Homo sapiens: one gene and its partner. The protein of the gene in region 1 purifies or fractionates together with the protein of each later gene. This does not show direct contact. Each region holds a gene or a part of one and is shown on either strand. Other genes may lie near its edges. The genes, in order: TTC38 and PFAS.

Region 1 (3,810 bases):
AGGATGAGGCAGGAAGATTCCTTGAGCCCAGGAGTTTGAGTTTACAGTGAACTGTGATCACACCACTGCATTCCAACCTGGATGACCGAGTGAGACCTTGCCTCTAAAAATATAAAAAAATTTAAAAAGAAAGAAGAAAGAAGAGACGTGAAAGAATTAGCACTCAAAGGAAAGGTCATGTGAGGACACAGCAAGAAAGTGGCTGTCCACAAGCCAGGAAGAGAGGCCTCAGCAGAAACTGAACCCAGCCAGGCCTTGTTCCTGGACATTCCAGCCTCCAGAACTGTGAGACAGTGCATGCCTACTGTGCAAGCCGCCCAGACTGTGGCACTTTTATTTTTTAATTTTTTGAGATAGAATCTCCCTCGGTCACTCAGGCTGGAGTGCAATGACGCGATCTCGGCTCACTGCAACCTCCACCTCCCAGGTTCAAGCGATTCTCCTGCCTCAGGCTCCCGACTAGCCGGGATTACAGGTACCCACCACCACGCCCGGCTAATTTTTTGTATTTTTAGTAGAGGCGGAGTTTCACCATATTAGCCAGGCTGGTCTTGAACTCCTGACCTCAGGTGATCCACCCGCCTTGGCCTCCGAAAGTGCTGGGATTACAGGCATGAGCCACCGTGCCCGGCCTGTCTGTGGCACTTTTAAAATAACAACCCAAACTGACTAAGACAGCCCCCAAACACCTGAAAACAGTGGTTCTAGAGGGCGTGGGTGGTGTGAAGGGGCTGGGGCCGGGAACTCATTGTGGGGGGCACCATGGCTGTGGGTGGAAGGTTTCCCACCTTGGGGGCTGGTGAGCTGTGCTGATGGCCCCATGGATGCTGCCTGGTAGCAGGACAGGACTTGGAGAGAAGGCCCCCTCCACGTCTCCTAATGCAGTCGGCTCCCTGTGCAGCCTGCTCTCCCCCTGCCCTCCCCCACTGGGCCCCGCAGAAGGCCACATCGGCACTGCCGCACTGCCCCACAGATGTCACCCCAGCTCCATCCTCAGCCCTCCTGTCCACACAGCCACTTTCCCCACCGCTGCTGCCAGAGGCACCAACTCCCACCCACACCACAGCCTGAGCTCCCCAGGGGGCTTGACCACCAAAGAAACACGCATGGTTTTGTCTACAGCCATGGAAGGGGAAAGCGGGGAGCATGCGTCCAAGACATTTTACAGTTCTAGGCGGTTCCAGTGCTGCCAGCCAGACCTGTTTCATGAGTACCACAGAACCTGTACAGCTCAGTTTGGGTAACCCTGCCTGGAGGGAGCTGCGCTGGTGCACCTGCGCCTAAACCACTGGGCTTGTCACCAGCCAAGGGCCTCCTGTGGACCCGGGCTGCCACCTGCTCTCACAGCACACCTTCCCCACCAGGCACCCCATGACTCCTCTATTCTTCCTTTCACTTATGTCTGAGGGTGGCAGGGACATGGGCAAGGAGAGGTGTCAAACTCGCCGCTCAGGCACACGGGCTACGCAGCTGCTGGCCAAGAGCTCAGCAGCCTAAGTGGAGGGAGGCAAGCTGGGCCATGGAAGCACCAAGGCTGCTGGCAATGGTGAGGGCTCTTTGGAGTTCCCCCAGCACTCTCATCTGCCAGCTATGCCACCCTCCTGACACTCGCCTGCCAGCCACACCACCCTCCTAACACTCACCCTCCAGCCACGCCACCCTAACACACCTTCCAGCCACGCCACCCTCCTAACACTCACCCTCCAGCCACGCCACCCTCCTAACACTCACCCTCCAGCCACACCACCCTCCTAACACCCTCCAGCCACGCTGCCCTAACACACTCACCCTCCAGCCATGCCACCCTAACACTCACCCTCCAGCCACGCCACCCTCCTACCAGCCCCATGCCTGGCCTGGCTAAACCCACTGTGGTTTCGGGTCTGCCCTCAGCTGCTGCTCCCTCAGTGCGAGTTTACGTGTCTGTGGGACTGATTGCTCCCTGTCGCTCCCCCGACTACAGATGGGCTCCTGGTAGCCAGTGACTGGTGTGCCTGCTCACTGCTCCCTCTCGGTACCCAGCACAGGCAGGCAGGTGAAATGAGCTGAGGTCTAACTGAGCATTAGGTGTCGGCCAGGTGCAAAAAAGGAGAAAGGGTGTTCCAAGCGTGCAAAGGCCCAGGAGCCTGAAAGAGCAGGACGTGTTTACGTACCCAGGTAGCTTAGCAAGGCTAAAAGGGAGTGGGCTGGGAAGGGTGGGAGGTTGGGCCTGGGGTGGGGCTGGCTCCACTTGGTCACACTGAGCCTGCTAACAAAGGAGAACCAAATTCCCCACAGCCTCCCGACCTCACAGCCTCAGAAGCAGGAGCATCTCGGGCCAAGGGTGGTGGGGCTTCCAGGCACTCCTGAGGTCTGCAGGGAGAGCCTGTGAAGGTCGGGAGTGCTGGGCAGGGGCCAGGAGCTCACCGGGCTACGTTCTTATGGACGCTGGAGGTGCAGTTTAAGGCCGCGTGAATCAGCAGCTGGTTGAAGACGTCTCTCTGAAATGTCAATCGGGCATGTGAGTCTCCTGTACCTCAGGATGGGGGAGGCGAGCCCCCGCCCACCGCGGGCTGCCTGCTCTCCAGGGAGACAGTGGTGTTGATGCCACACCCTCAACGACGAACTTACACGGCGGGAGTGTGAGAGACACGTTCACACCCACATTGTTGGCACCAACACCATGGGAGAAACTTGGGGGCTGCGGGGCGCCCAGACTCCCTGGCCCAGGCCCTAGGCACCCCAGCTGGCGGCCATCGGCTCACCTGGGCATTGCTCCCACCGAGCTGGACGATCCGGTAGCGGATGGGCAGGAGCAGCTCCAGGACGCGGTCAGGGTTCCCGTCCTCAGCCTCCACCAGGGCCTGGCACAGGGGCAGCCCCACGTCTCGGGCCAGGAGGTGCTGGCAGTTCTCCCCTGGGGATCTGCGAACCCAAGACGGTGCCCTCAGCTGCCTGCCCATCACAGAACATCCGGGAAGGGCAGAGCCATTTCTTCCTCAGCGAGGTGTCCCTGGTCCAGTGCCTGACACATGCCACACTGATGAGGTGAGGTGACAGGCGGGGCAGCCCATCGAGGGGACAGGACAGGGTACTGAGCTCAGAGCTGGGTTGGAGTTCGCCCACTTCCAGCTACCTGGTCCCCCACCTTCCAGCCTCAGTTTGCTCATCTGTAAGCAGGCATAACAGTGCCAATCTAACAGAACCGTCAGGATTGCTGATAATACAGGCAAAGGCCTGGCACTGCAAGCCAAGGCAATCATCACCCCCGGAAGGGAATGGGCAGGGCAGCCCAGGTCCTCCAGGTCAGCCCTCACCAGCTCTTGCCAGGCATCGCCCTGATTTAGATGGGGAAACTGAGGTTCAGAGCACAGAAGCACCTCGTCCAGGACCTCAGGGCCTGTAAGCAGCAGGTGTCTCTGGCTTCAGGGCTTCACTGTGTCCTCTCCACGGGAGGCAGCCCTGTGACCCTGCGGATCTCATACCCACCCTGGGGATGGAGGCAGCTCTGTGTCTTGGGGCAACCAGTTGTACAGCTGTGGGTGTACACACCTTGGGGGTCTGCACCAGGGGATGCACATCTATAGGGGTGCACACCTGGGAGCTGCCTCCATGGGCATCCCCCCTGCTGCACTCACAGGCGGGGCAGGCACTGAACAGGTCTCAGCATGGCCCTAGCACCCCCTCACCCTCTCGGCAGGGTGAGGACCCCCACCCCGAGAAGGCCCCTCTGCATACTCGCTGGCGTCCCGCAGGGTGGTCAGCAGCTCCTGTGTGGTCTGGGGGTCGTGTGCACCCAGGGATGCCATCAGGAAGTGTGCGTCATTGAAC
Region 2 (3,810 bases), on another chromosome or scaffold:
CACAGAGGAAGCTGATGTTAGGGAGAAGCCTGACCAGCTTTTTTTTTTTTGAGATGGAGTCTCGCTCTGTTGTCCAGGCTGAAGTACAGTGGTGTGATCTCAGCTCACTGCAACCTCCGTCTCCTGGGTTCAAGCGATATTCCTGCCTCAGCCTCCTGAGTAGCTGGGACTACAGGCGCCTGCTATCGTGCCCGGCTAATTTTTGTATTTTTTCAGTAGAGACAGGGTTTCACCATCTTGGCCAGGCTGGTCTCAAACTCCTGACCTCAGGTGATCCGCCCACCTCGGCCTCCCAAAGTGTTGGGATTACAGTCGTGAGCCACCCTGCCTAGCCCAGAAGCCTTACCACTTGACTGGGTTGATAGGAGAGTAAACTGATATCAACTACGGAGGACGATTTGGCAATAACAACCAAAATGACAAATGCACACAGTCTCTGATTGGGTAAATACACTTTGAGGAAGTCATCCCGCTGATTTATTTGCACAGGTATAAAATCACCTACTTACAAGATTAAACACCACAGTAACGTTTGTATTAGCAAGTACATGAAATAACCTAAAGGCTGACAACAGAGACCTCATTAAGTAAACTATGGTAAGTCTATACAATGAAAGACTAAGCCACCAAAAAAAGAGAATATAGGAATGTAATGAAGTAATATGATTTCATCAATATGAAATTATTTCCAAGATATACTGCTAAGCGAAAAATGAAAAAGGCAAAAATATCTATGTCTATTTACAGTAGCATCAAAAAGAATAAAAATAATTAGGAATAAATTTAACAATAGAAGTAAGGCTTATACACTAAAAACTTTTTTTTTTTTTGAGATGGGGTCTTGCTCGGTTGCCCAGGCTGGAGTGCAGTGATGCAATCTCGGCTCACTGCAACCTCTGGATGCGGAAGGGTCCTGAAGCCTGGGGGCTCCAGGGTAGAAACTGTGGGAGAACTCACCCATACTCCCAGCACTTTGGGAGACTGAGGCGGGCGGATCGCTTGAGCTCAGGAATTCGAGACCAGCCTGGCTAACACAGTGAAATCCAATCTTTACAAAAAATGCAAAAATTAGCCAGGCATGGTGGCCGGAGCTTGTAGTCTCAGCTACTCAGGAGGCTAAGGTGGGAGGATTGCCTGAGCCCGGAAGATGGAGGTTGCAGTGAGCTGAGATCGCACCACTGCACTCCAGCCTGGGTGACAGAGTGAGATCCCATCTCAAAAAAGAAAAAAGAAATAGGAAAGGATCTGAATAGATGTTTCTCTAAGGAAGATATACGCATAGCTAACTAGCATACGAAAACATGCTCGGCCAGGTGCGGTGGCTCACGCCTGTAATCCTAGCACTTTGGGAGGCTGAGGCGGGTGGATTACCTGAGCTCAGGAGTTTGAGACCAGCCTGGGCAACACGGTGAAACCCCATCTCTACTAAAATACAAAAGAAATTAGCTAGGTGTGGTGGCACGTGCCTGTAATCCCAGCTATTTGGGAGGCTGAGGCAGGGGAATTGCTTGAACCCGGGAGGCGGAGGTTGCAGTGAGCTGAGATTGCGCCATTGCACTCCAGCCTGAGTAACAGAGCAAGACTCTGTCTCTACAAAAAAAAAAAAGAAAGAAAGAAAACACGCTCAACATCATTAGTCATTAGAGAAAAACAAACCAAATCCACAATGAAATACTGCTTCATACCCACTATTATGCCTTACAATCAAAAGGACAGATATTAACAAGTGTTGTCAAGCATGTGGAGAAACTGGAACCCTCACACACTGCCAGAGAGAATGTAAAATGGTACAGCTGCTTTGGAAAACAGTTTGGCAATTTTTTGAAAAGCTGAACATAGTTACCACATGACCCAGCAATTCCACCCCTAGTTATATACCTGGGAGAAATTATAACATATGTTCATACAAAAACTTGTACATAGGCCGGGCGCGGTGGCTCACGCCTGTAATCCCAGCACTTTGGGAGGCTGAGGCAGGCGGATCACGAGATCGGGAGATAGAGACCACCCTGGCTAACACGGCAAAACCCCGTCTCTGCTAAAAACACATAAAATTAGCCGGGCGTGGTGGTGGGCACCTGTGGTCCCAGCTACTCGGGAGGCTGAGGCAGGAGAGTGGCGTGAACCCGGGAGGCGGGGCTTGCAGTGAGCCGAGAAAGCGCCATTACGCTCCAGCTTGGGCGACAGAGCGAGACTCCGTCTCAAAAAAACCAAACCAAAACAAAACAAAAAAACTTGTACATAAATGTTCATAGCAGCATTATGCATAATAGCTAAAAAGCTGAAACAACCCCAATGTCCACCAACTAAGGAATGGGTAAACAAAATGCGACATAGCTACATAATGGGATATTATTCAGCCATAAAAAGAAATAAAGTACTGATGCAACGGATAACCCCTGAAAACATTAAGCTAAGTGAAAGAAGGCAGACACAAAAGGCCGCATATTGTATGATTCCATTTTGGTCATGGGCTGACTAATGACATTTTGCTTAACAACAGACCACATATACAACAGTGATCCCTTAAGATTATAATTGTGCTGAAAAATTCCTATTGCCTAGTGGCATCGTGGCACGCTGGTGGGTGATGCTATTGTAAATAAACCTACTATACTGCCAGTCACACAAAAGTATACTGCAAACCATTATTGTATGTATACTACATAATACTTCATAATGACAATAAATGACTATTACTGGTTTATGTATTTACCACACTTAAAAAAAAATTTTTTTTTTTTTGAGACAGAGTCTCACTCTTACGTCCAGACTGGAGTGCAGTGGCGTAAACTTGGCTCACTGCAACCTCCACCTCCCAGGTTCAAGTGATTCTCCTGCCTCAGCCTCCCGAGTAGCTGGGATTATAGGTGCGCGCCACCACACCCAGCTAATATTTGAATTTTTGGCAGAGAGGGGGTTTCACCATGTTGGCCAGGCTGGTCTTGAACTCCTGACCTCAGGTGATCTGCCCACCATGGCCTCCCAAAGTGCTGGGATTACAGGCGTGAGCCACCACACTCAGCCTACATTTATTTTTTATTTTTATTCTTTTTTGGAGACAGGGTTTCACTCTGTCACTCATGCTGGAGTGCAGTGGTATGATCATAGCTCACTACAGCCTTGAGCTCCTTGGCTCAAGCGATCTTCCCACCTAAGCCTCCTGGGTAGCTGGGACTACAGGTGTACACCACCATATCCAGCTAAGTTTTATTTCTTAATTTTTTTAGAGACAGGGGTCTGACTGTATTCCCCAGACTGGTCTCAAACTCCTGGCCTCAAGTAATCCCCCTGCCTTGGCCTCCCAAAGTGCTGGGATTACAGGCGTGAGCCACTGTGCCCAACCAACTATACTTTTTACTGTTATTTTAGAATGTACTCATTCTACTTATATAAAGCAAGTTTATTCTGGCTGGGCACCATGGCTCACACCTGTAATCCCAGTGCTTTGGAAGGCTGAAGCAGGAGAACTGCTTGAGCCCAGGAGCTCAAGGCCACAGTGAGCTAGGACAGAACCACTGTTCTTCAGCCTGGGTGACAAAGTAACACCCTGTCTCTAAAAAGAGAAAAAAAATCTGACTTGAGAAAGAAAATGCAGATTAAAAATAATAATAATTAACAAAAAAGAGAAAAAAAAGTTTACCTAAAAACGGTATGCCATGTTACATTGACAGTAGCTTCATATTATCTCATATTTACCACGTCTTTTTTTTTTTTTTTGACAGTGGTGCGATCGCAGTGGTGCGATCTCCACTCACTGCAACCTCCACCTCCCAGCTTCAAGTGGTTCTTGTGCCTCAGGAGGCTGGG

What was found.
Region 2: the proteins of TTC38 (region 1) and PFAS fractionate together in Homo sapiens (co-fractionation; one large-scale study listed by BioGRID). This does not show direct contact.

The regions. Positions count from the first base shown.
Region 1 is NC_000022.11:46,288,496-46,292,305, reverse strand, and holds part of TTC38 (tetratricopeptide repeat protein 38), read right to left. Parts: coding exon 3,718-3,810; intron 2,905-3,717; coding exon 2,745-2,904; intron 2,481-2,744; coding exon 2,407-2,480; intron 1-2,406.
Region 2 is NC_000017.11:8,259,036-8,262,845, reverse strand, and holds part of PFAS (phosphoribosylformylglycinamidine synthase), read right to left. Parts: intron 1-3,810. UniProt on the Homo sapiens protein: Phosphoribosylformylglycinamidine synthase involved in the purines biosynthetic pathway. Catalyzes the ATP-dependent conversion of formylglycinamide ribonucleotide (FGAR) and glutamine to yield formylglycinamidine ribonucleotide (FGAM) and glutamate.